2 linked regions of the Homo sapiens genome follow. The protein of the gene in region 1 interacts with the protein of each later gene in a biochemical or structural test. Each region holds a gene or a part of one and is shown in the gene's direction. Other genes may lie near its edges.

Region 1 (3,752 bases):
CCGTGCTTCCAAATCGGGATGGGGATACGTGTGTGTTGGTGACTTTTTCTTTCTTTTTTTTTTGTTGTTGTTTGTTTTTCCTTCTAAGTTCTTTTTATTCTTTTCCCTGGGCAGACTCAAGAATTTCCTATTTAAACTCATTTAACATGTGCTCCACTTCATAATTAAATTCCTAAAAATCGGATCAAACAAACTCCTCTGTCTTAACCCTTTGTTTTTTAAATTGTTAGGGACCCCTCTGGAGGGGAAAGGCACAGGCAGCCGCCCCCTTCCCCCCCACCGCCGCCTTCACCCCCACCCGGCTGGGTGGCTGCCGATGTACGTTTTAATTACCGGCTCCAGCTGAAGTCTCACGTGGCCTTGGCTTTATTTATTTATTTATACCTTAATGAGGATACTGAATCTTTGATTAAAGTCGTAATCGTTGCCGATTCAGTAAGGAGGGGGAGTTGGATGTCAGACCAGACAGGGCTGTGAGTGCAGACACACGGAGAGAGTGGGTTCGGGTGCACACACAGACTGGCCCTTACTGTGTTAGACACACAACTAATTAGTACCAGGGTCTGCACAGGCCTCCACTCCCTTGAGTTTGATGGGGCTGGGGGCCAGGCAGTCCGCATGGCTCTGGCAGTGAGGATGGGCAGGTAGCAATTTCCCCAACTGAGAACCCTGGGCCTTGGCCCATCCCCAGATCTGCAGGTGAGGGACTCGCTGGCCGAGCCTCTGAGCCAGTGCAACACCCCATAGATTGGGGTGAACTGGTGTCAAGGCACGATGCCACTCTTTGAGCTTCTCTCATCTGATTCCCTGATGGAAGTGCCCCTCTCATGGCATGGGTGCTTCTTGCAAATCTTCCACCCATGAGAAAGTCACTGATCAGACCCCAGCATCCGCTCCCCTCAGAGCCCTAAAAACCCCTCAGAGCCATCAGAACAGATGAGAATTTATGTGGGTACAGGGGCCTAACTTTGGGAGGGGGGAGCTTTGGTTAGTGGCCCGAGGAGGGGAGAGACAGGAGAGAGTAAAATATCATTTTAAAAAGGAAGTGAAGGCACAGGCATGCGAGTCTATAACGAGAAGGACAATTTATGCCCAGGCACGAGCGCAGTTTGACATGGGGATAATGCAAAAACGTAGGTCATTGTGGATGACTTAAACCTTCAGCAGCTGAAGAAAATGTATGAAATGCAGAGGACATTACACGGTTGGCAGCCCCGCACATCTGCAGAGGGACAAGTGAAATACAGTGGGCCATTCTTTACCATAAACTGTGGTTGTTGGAGATGCAGCCCAGAGAAATTGTAATTACAGTGACAAGACGAATCAGCGATATTTAAATATTCATGAACAAAGTCTGGGGTGATCAATCTATCTTTATTGTCTGCGCCTTCACTCCTGTAATAAATAAGTAGCTGGAGTCCTCACCTTTCATCCCCCAAGCCCCCCACTTTGGATATGAAAGGCAAGATGGTTATTCTCCACACCCCAACCTCTCATGCTCTGGAGATTTAAGAGTGGGATCCTCAAAAAAGAAAAGGCAGTTCTCTCCAAGTTTCATAGACCCACCATTTCCTGGGTCTGTTCTGGATCCTCCCTGTGCGATACACTGAGGCTACAAGGATGGGTGAGGCTTGCTTCTTATCCTGGTGGTGCTTCCATGCTGGAGGTATGGTGGGCAAGCCAGTAGATACAGCATAGTGTGTCAGCAAGCTGACAAGTATATGGTACCCTGACTCTAGAGCCAGACCCAAACCTGAATCCCAACTCAGCTCCTTACTTGCCGTTTCACCTTAGGGATGATGTGGAAGCATCTCATTTTTTTCTCAACTGTAAAATGAGACTAATATCTTTCTTTAAGTTTGTTGCCATGATCATCTGATGCGATCACATCACACATCTGAGTGCTCAGGAAATGTAGCCCATTTTAATGCGAAAGTGGCATAAAAATGATACCACACTAATAACAGAACAAAATTCTGGGCATTTCTTCTCTTTGGGGACACAGAAGAAAGTGTGATTCATTCTGCCTGGGGAACTAAAGGGAAGCGTCCACGCGGGGGTATCATATGAGCTGGGCTTTGAAGGATGATTAGGAGTTCACCAGGGAGAAAAGAAGAAATCGAGCAGAGGAAACAGCTATGTAAGACTGTGGAGGAAGGAAATTGGGGACTGTAGAAGGTGTTTGGGGGACAATGTGAAGTTCCTCAAATTGGAGAGATTTCTTTGAAGGTTGGGGAGTCAGGCTGGAGTGACTTTCACCCTTAACCTAAAGGAAGGGGAGAAGAGGTCATCTGAGAAGCAAGATGGTGAGGTCTCATGTATCCACAAGGGGGCTTGCTTTCTGGGGACTGCTGTCCATCCCTGAACCAAATGGGCTCTCTTTCCCAGGACTGGCCCTTGCCCCACAGATGATCATGGGGCCACAGTAAAGTATGGTCATGTGTGAAGACAGGTATTGCTTGTTTATTCAATGGAGGTGTGGCCGTGGATCCTTAAGTTGTCTTTGGAGGTGGTGAATACAGGCCGTCGCATCCTTCTCATGCACAGAATGTGCCCTACTGTCCCCTGAAGAGGGGGCAGGGAGAGGCAAAGGCCTGATCCAGCCCCTTGTCTCCACAGGCGACCACCCCTACGAGTGTGAGTTCTGTGGCAGCTGCTTCCGGGATGAGAGCACACTCAAGAGCCACAAACGCATCCACACGGGTGAGAAACCCTACGAGTGCAATGGCTGTGGCAAGAAGTTCAGCCTCAAGCATCAGCTGGAGACGCACTATAGGGTGCACACAGGTACCGAAGGCCAGGGAGGGGCCTGAGCTGGCTCTGGGACCTGGGCGGAGGTGGGAAGCAGATAGTCTCCTAGAGAAGCCTAAGTGAGGATGATCCCAGGCTGAATCAAAGAGTAGAAGAGGTTCTATTAAGAGCTGGTATGGTGGCCTGAGGACCACCACACCCCAGTCAAGGTGGCCTGAGGGCCATCAGTCAAGGCCAAGGCAGACATTACTAATCAATCCCAGCACACTTTCCAGTGAGCCCCCATCAGCCCTCCAGGCAGCTATACCAGTAGTTCAGAGGTGACATGCAAAATGATGTCTGTATATGAGTCCTGAATTAGGGGTAAGTTGGTCCAATTAGCTGAAAGTGAAGGTTAGGGTAATTTCATGTTACTCAAGGGTTAGAGTAAGAATTAGGATACATTGAATTAGGTTGTTATGAAGGTTGGGAAGTTGTAAAGTTAGATTGTGTTTGGTTCTGAGATTAGAAGAGCAGATATATTTAATAATCCCTATATGCATATGATGTTTTACCACTTCAGAGTGCCTTCACATTTTTTTTTTTTAGACGGAGTTTCGCTCTTATTGGCCAGGCCGGAGTGCAGTGGCACGATCTCAGTTCACTGCAATCTCTGCCTCCTGGGTTCAAGCGATTCTCCTGCCTCAGCCTCCCAATTACCTGGGATTACAGGTGTGTGCCACCACGCCCAGCTAATTTTGTATTTTTTTTAGTAGAGACAGGGTTTTGCCATGTTGGTCAGGCTGGTCTCGAACTCCTGACCTCAAGTGATTCACCCGCCTCGGCCTCCAAAGTGCTGGGATTACAGGCGTGAGCCACCGTGCCCATCCACATTATTTTTTGTATTGGAAAAAGAAATGTGGGCCACTGTTTTCCCTGAGGTCAAAAGACAAAACAAGTGAAGGGTCTTCCACAGTTTCCCAAGTTGGGGGCAGTGAAGTCCTGGAGCTTGCTTGTGAAAG
Region 2 (3,752 bases), on another chromosome or scaffold:
TGGTAGAATTATTACAATGAACATATATTCTGTTAAAAATTTTGACCATTCCAAAAATTAGCCGGGCATGGTGGCGGGTGCCTGTAATCCCAGCTACTTGGGAGGCTGAGGCAGGAGAATTGCTTGAACCCAGGAGGCGGAGGCTGCAGTGTGCCGAGATTGTGCTACTGCACTCCAGCCTGGGCAACAGAATGAGACTCTGTCTCAAAAAAAAAAAAAACAAATTGTGGCCAAGTATCTTTGAGTCTAAAACTAAATGGCTTTGGAATTTCAGAGTTCGTGTGTTAATTTTAAAATGCGTAGATGATCTGTTTTCCTGTTTAGAGAAAACCTAGTAGAAAGTGAAATTTTGAGTGAGGTGGCTCATGCCTGTAATCCCAGCACTTTGGGAGGCCAAGGTGGGCGGATCACCTGAGGTCAGGAGTTCGAGACCAGCCTGGCCAACATGGTGAAACCCCACCTGTCCTAAAAATACAAAAATTAGCCGGGTATGGTGGCGCATGCCTGTAATCCCAGCTACTTGGGAGGCTGAGGCAGGAGAATCACTTGAACTCGGGAGGTGGAGGTTGCAGTGAGCCAAGACCCCAAGATTGCACCATTGCAGTCCAGCCTGGGCAACAGAGTGAGACTCCGTCTCAAAAGAAAAAAAAACATGAAATTTTTTCTTAACAGGGTGTTTGTTAAGCTTACAGTTTATCACTTTTCTTTTTGTTTTTTATCAGCATCGACACCCCAGGAGTGATTAGTCGTGTGTCCCAGCTATTCAAAGGCCACCCCGATCTGATAATGGGATTCAACACCTTCTTGCCCCCTGGCTACAAAATTGAGGTGCAAACCAATGACATGGTGAATGTGACAACTCCTGGCCAGGTTCATCAGATTCCCACCCATGGCATCCAGCCACAGCCTCAACCACCACCCCAACATCCTTCCCAGCCTTCAGCCCAGTCAGCCCCAGCTCCTGCCCAGCCAGCTCCTCAGCCCCCACCTGCCAAAGTCAGCAAGGTGAGCACTTGGAAAATATTGCATCAATATGAATGCATCCCTAGAGAGCACCTTCCTTTGATGTTTCCCCTTTATATAAGACTTAGATACTGAGAAACAAAGTTACAAAGATTTCGTCATAGAAAAATGCTGTATGAAAACTTCACTATGACATGGTTCACATTTACACATCACTTACTTAGGTATCTATTTAAATCAACACAGCAACAACTTTCAAGGTCTTTCTTTTTACAGTTTCTGCTTATAAAACCATGAACATCCCAACAGGTGGTGACTTTGTGTAGTAGTAGTTGACAGCACAGATAGAAACCATCGTCTTATCCTGGTCAAATTGTGCTGCTGCCCACATGGTTATTTTATGAAAGTTATTTCACTAACTAGATTATATCAAGCTAAGTAGAAGATCTAATGAATAGTGATAGTGATGGTGATGAAGATGGGGTGTTCTTGGTCTAGAACCACACTGTCTGACACAGTAGCCACTAGCCACATAGGACTATTTAAATTAAATTCAGTTTTTCATTTGCACTAGCTTTCAAGTGCTCAGTAACCTCATGTGGCTGGTGGCTATGTATAAGACAGTGCAAATAAAGGACATTTCCATCATCTCAGTTCTACAGGACAGAGTTGGCGTAGAAGACTTTTTTATGTGGAGCTACTGCAACAGTTGTCTTGTTGTTGACATCAAAAGGCTATGTAGAATGAGATTTTTTCTATGTGTACTTGTTGAGCTACTAAGCTAAAACATTGCATATGAAAAATTCTTCCCTGTAATTGGAGATGGCTCCAGTTTTAAGGTTTTATTTAGAAAATGTGAGACTGAAATATTTGTATCAGCATGTTTGAACCGCCTACAACTCCCACTGCTGCCCAGTATGATTTGTGTTGGACTAAAATGACCTGGCCTGAGTGAGTAAATAAAGGATATACGTTGACACCTTGTTTCTCTTTAGTTTGAACTTTCCTTGTATCAACTCATCTATGCATCTGAAGAGAATAAAGATTTCTTTTCTTTCTAGCCCTCCCAACTGCAAGCACATACTCCGGCCAGTCAGCAGACTCCCCCACTTCCACCGTATGCATCCCCACGTTCTCCGCCGGTCCAGCCTCACACACCAGTGACAATCTCGTTGGGAACGGCCCCATCCTTGCAGAACAATCAACCTGTGGAGTTTAATCATGCCATCAACTATGTTAATAAGATCAAGAACAGATTTCAGGGCCAACCAGACATCTACAAAGCATTCCTGGAGATTTTGCACACATATCAGGTAAGGAGTGCCCATTCAGCCTGTCTTAACCAGGTCACCCTCTTAGGGCATCTAGTCCAATAACAAGTAACCATTATTGTGTCCATTAATTCATACTGGAAATTAACCAGTTAGAAACTATCATGCATGTTTTTAAAGCCAGTTTGTTTGTTTGTTTGTTTTTCGAGACGGAGTCTTGCACTGTCACCCAGGCTGGAGTGTAGTGGCACGATCTCAGCTCACTGCAGTCTCCGCCTCCCGGGCTCAAGTGATACTCCTGCCTTAGCCTCCCTAGTAGCTGGGATTACAGGCTCCGCCCACCACGCCCAGCTAATTTTTTGTATTGTTAGTAGAAATGGGATTTCACTATGTTGGCTAGGCTGGTCTCGAACTCCTGACCTTGTGATCTGCCCACCTTGGCCTCCCAAAGTGCTGGGATTGCAGGCGTGAGCCACCGCCCCCATGCTATAAAGCCAGTTTTATTTGCCTGACTTGATTGCCCTGCAACATTCAGTCAGGATTTTTTTTTTTTTTTTTGAGACAGAGTTTTGCTCTTTTTGCCTAGGCTGGAGTGCAATAGTGCAGTGTCGGCTCACTGCAGCCTCTACCTCCCGGGTTCAAGTGATTTCTTGTATTTTTAGTAGAGACGGGGTTTCAACATGTTGGCCAGGCTGGTCTCAGGTGATCCACCCGCCATGGCCTCCCAAAGTGCTGGGATTGCAGGCATGAGCCACCGTGCCCGGCCTCAGTCAGGATTGTTAGTCACTGTCCCATGAAATGAAACTCAGTTTTATCTGGGACAGTTAGATGGTGATTTATATAGTCTAGTTAATGTACAGTAGGAGGAGGAGAAATTTCTAAGGTTTTGTCAGTTGGTAGTGGTCCCCTGGGCATTAATATTTATTGCCCTAGGCCGGGCATGGTGTCTCACGCCTGTAATCCCAGTACTTTGGGAGGCCGAGACAAGTGCACTCCAGCCTGAGCAACAAGAGTGAAACTCCGTCTCAAAAATATTTACTACCCTAGTTTTGAAAGGAATTGTCATCCACCATCTTCAACTTTTTTTTTTTCTCAACTTGAAAGTCTGTGGTCAGAACGGGTGCTAAGAACATAGACTTTCTTCTTACATGCAGCCTAAATAGATAACAGTGATTCCAGAAAGCGTGCAAAGATGAGTGACTCAAAACAGTAGCCCAAATGATCTCTTTTCATTTGCAATTCCTCAGAAAGAGCAGAGAAATGCCAAGGAAGCTGGAGGAAACTACACTCCAGCATTGACAGAGCAGGAGGTGTATGCCCAGGTTGCTCGTCTCTTTAAAAACCAGGAAGATTTGTTGTCAGAGTTTGGACAATTCCTACCAGATGCCAACAGCTCCGTGGTATGTTTTTTTAATAAGAATTACACTATTTACTATTATTATCTTAGATGAGTTGGAAAACTGTGCTCAGAAGGGGACTTTTCCTAGATGATATTTGTTTGCTTTGATAAGAGCATTA

What was found. The genes of interacting proteins can lie anywhere in the genome.
Region 2: the proteins of ZBTB16 (region 1) and SIN3A form a complex in vitro, tested with the Homo sapiens proteins (3 studies listed by BioGRID).

What each region holds. Positions count from the first base shown.
Region 1 is NC_000011.10:114,244,579-114,248,330, forward strand, and holds part of ZBTB16 (zinc finger and BTB domain-containing protein 16), read left to right. Parts: intron 1-2,619; coding exon 2,620-2,787; intron 2,788-3,752. UniProt on the Homo sapiens protein: Acts as a transcriptional repressor. Transcriptional repression may be mediated through recruitment of histone deacetylases to target promoters. May play a role in myeloid maturation and in the development and/or maintenance of other differentiated tissues.
Region 2 is NC_000015.10:75,410,016-75,413,767, reverse strand, and holds part of SIN3A (paired amphipathic helix protein Sin3a), read left to right. Parts: intron 1-722; coding exon 723-1,005; intron 1,006-2,024; coding exon 2,025-2,276; intron 2,277-3,481; coding exon 3,482-3,634; intron 3,635-3,752. UniProt on the Homo sapiens protein: Acts as a transcriptional repressor. Corepressor for REST. Interacts with MXI1 to repress MYC responsive genes and antagonize MYC oncogenic activities. Also interacts with MXD1-MAX heterodimers to repress transcription by tethering SIN3A to DNA.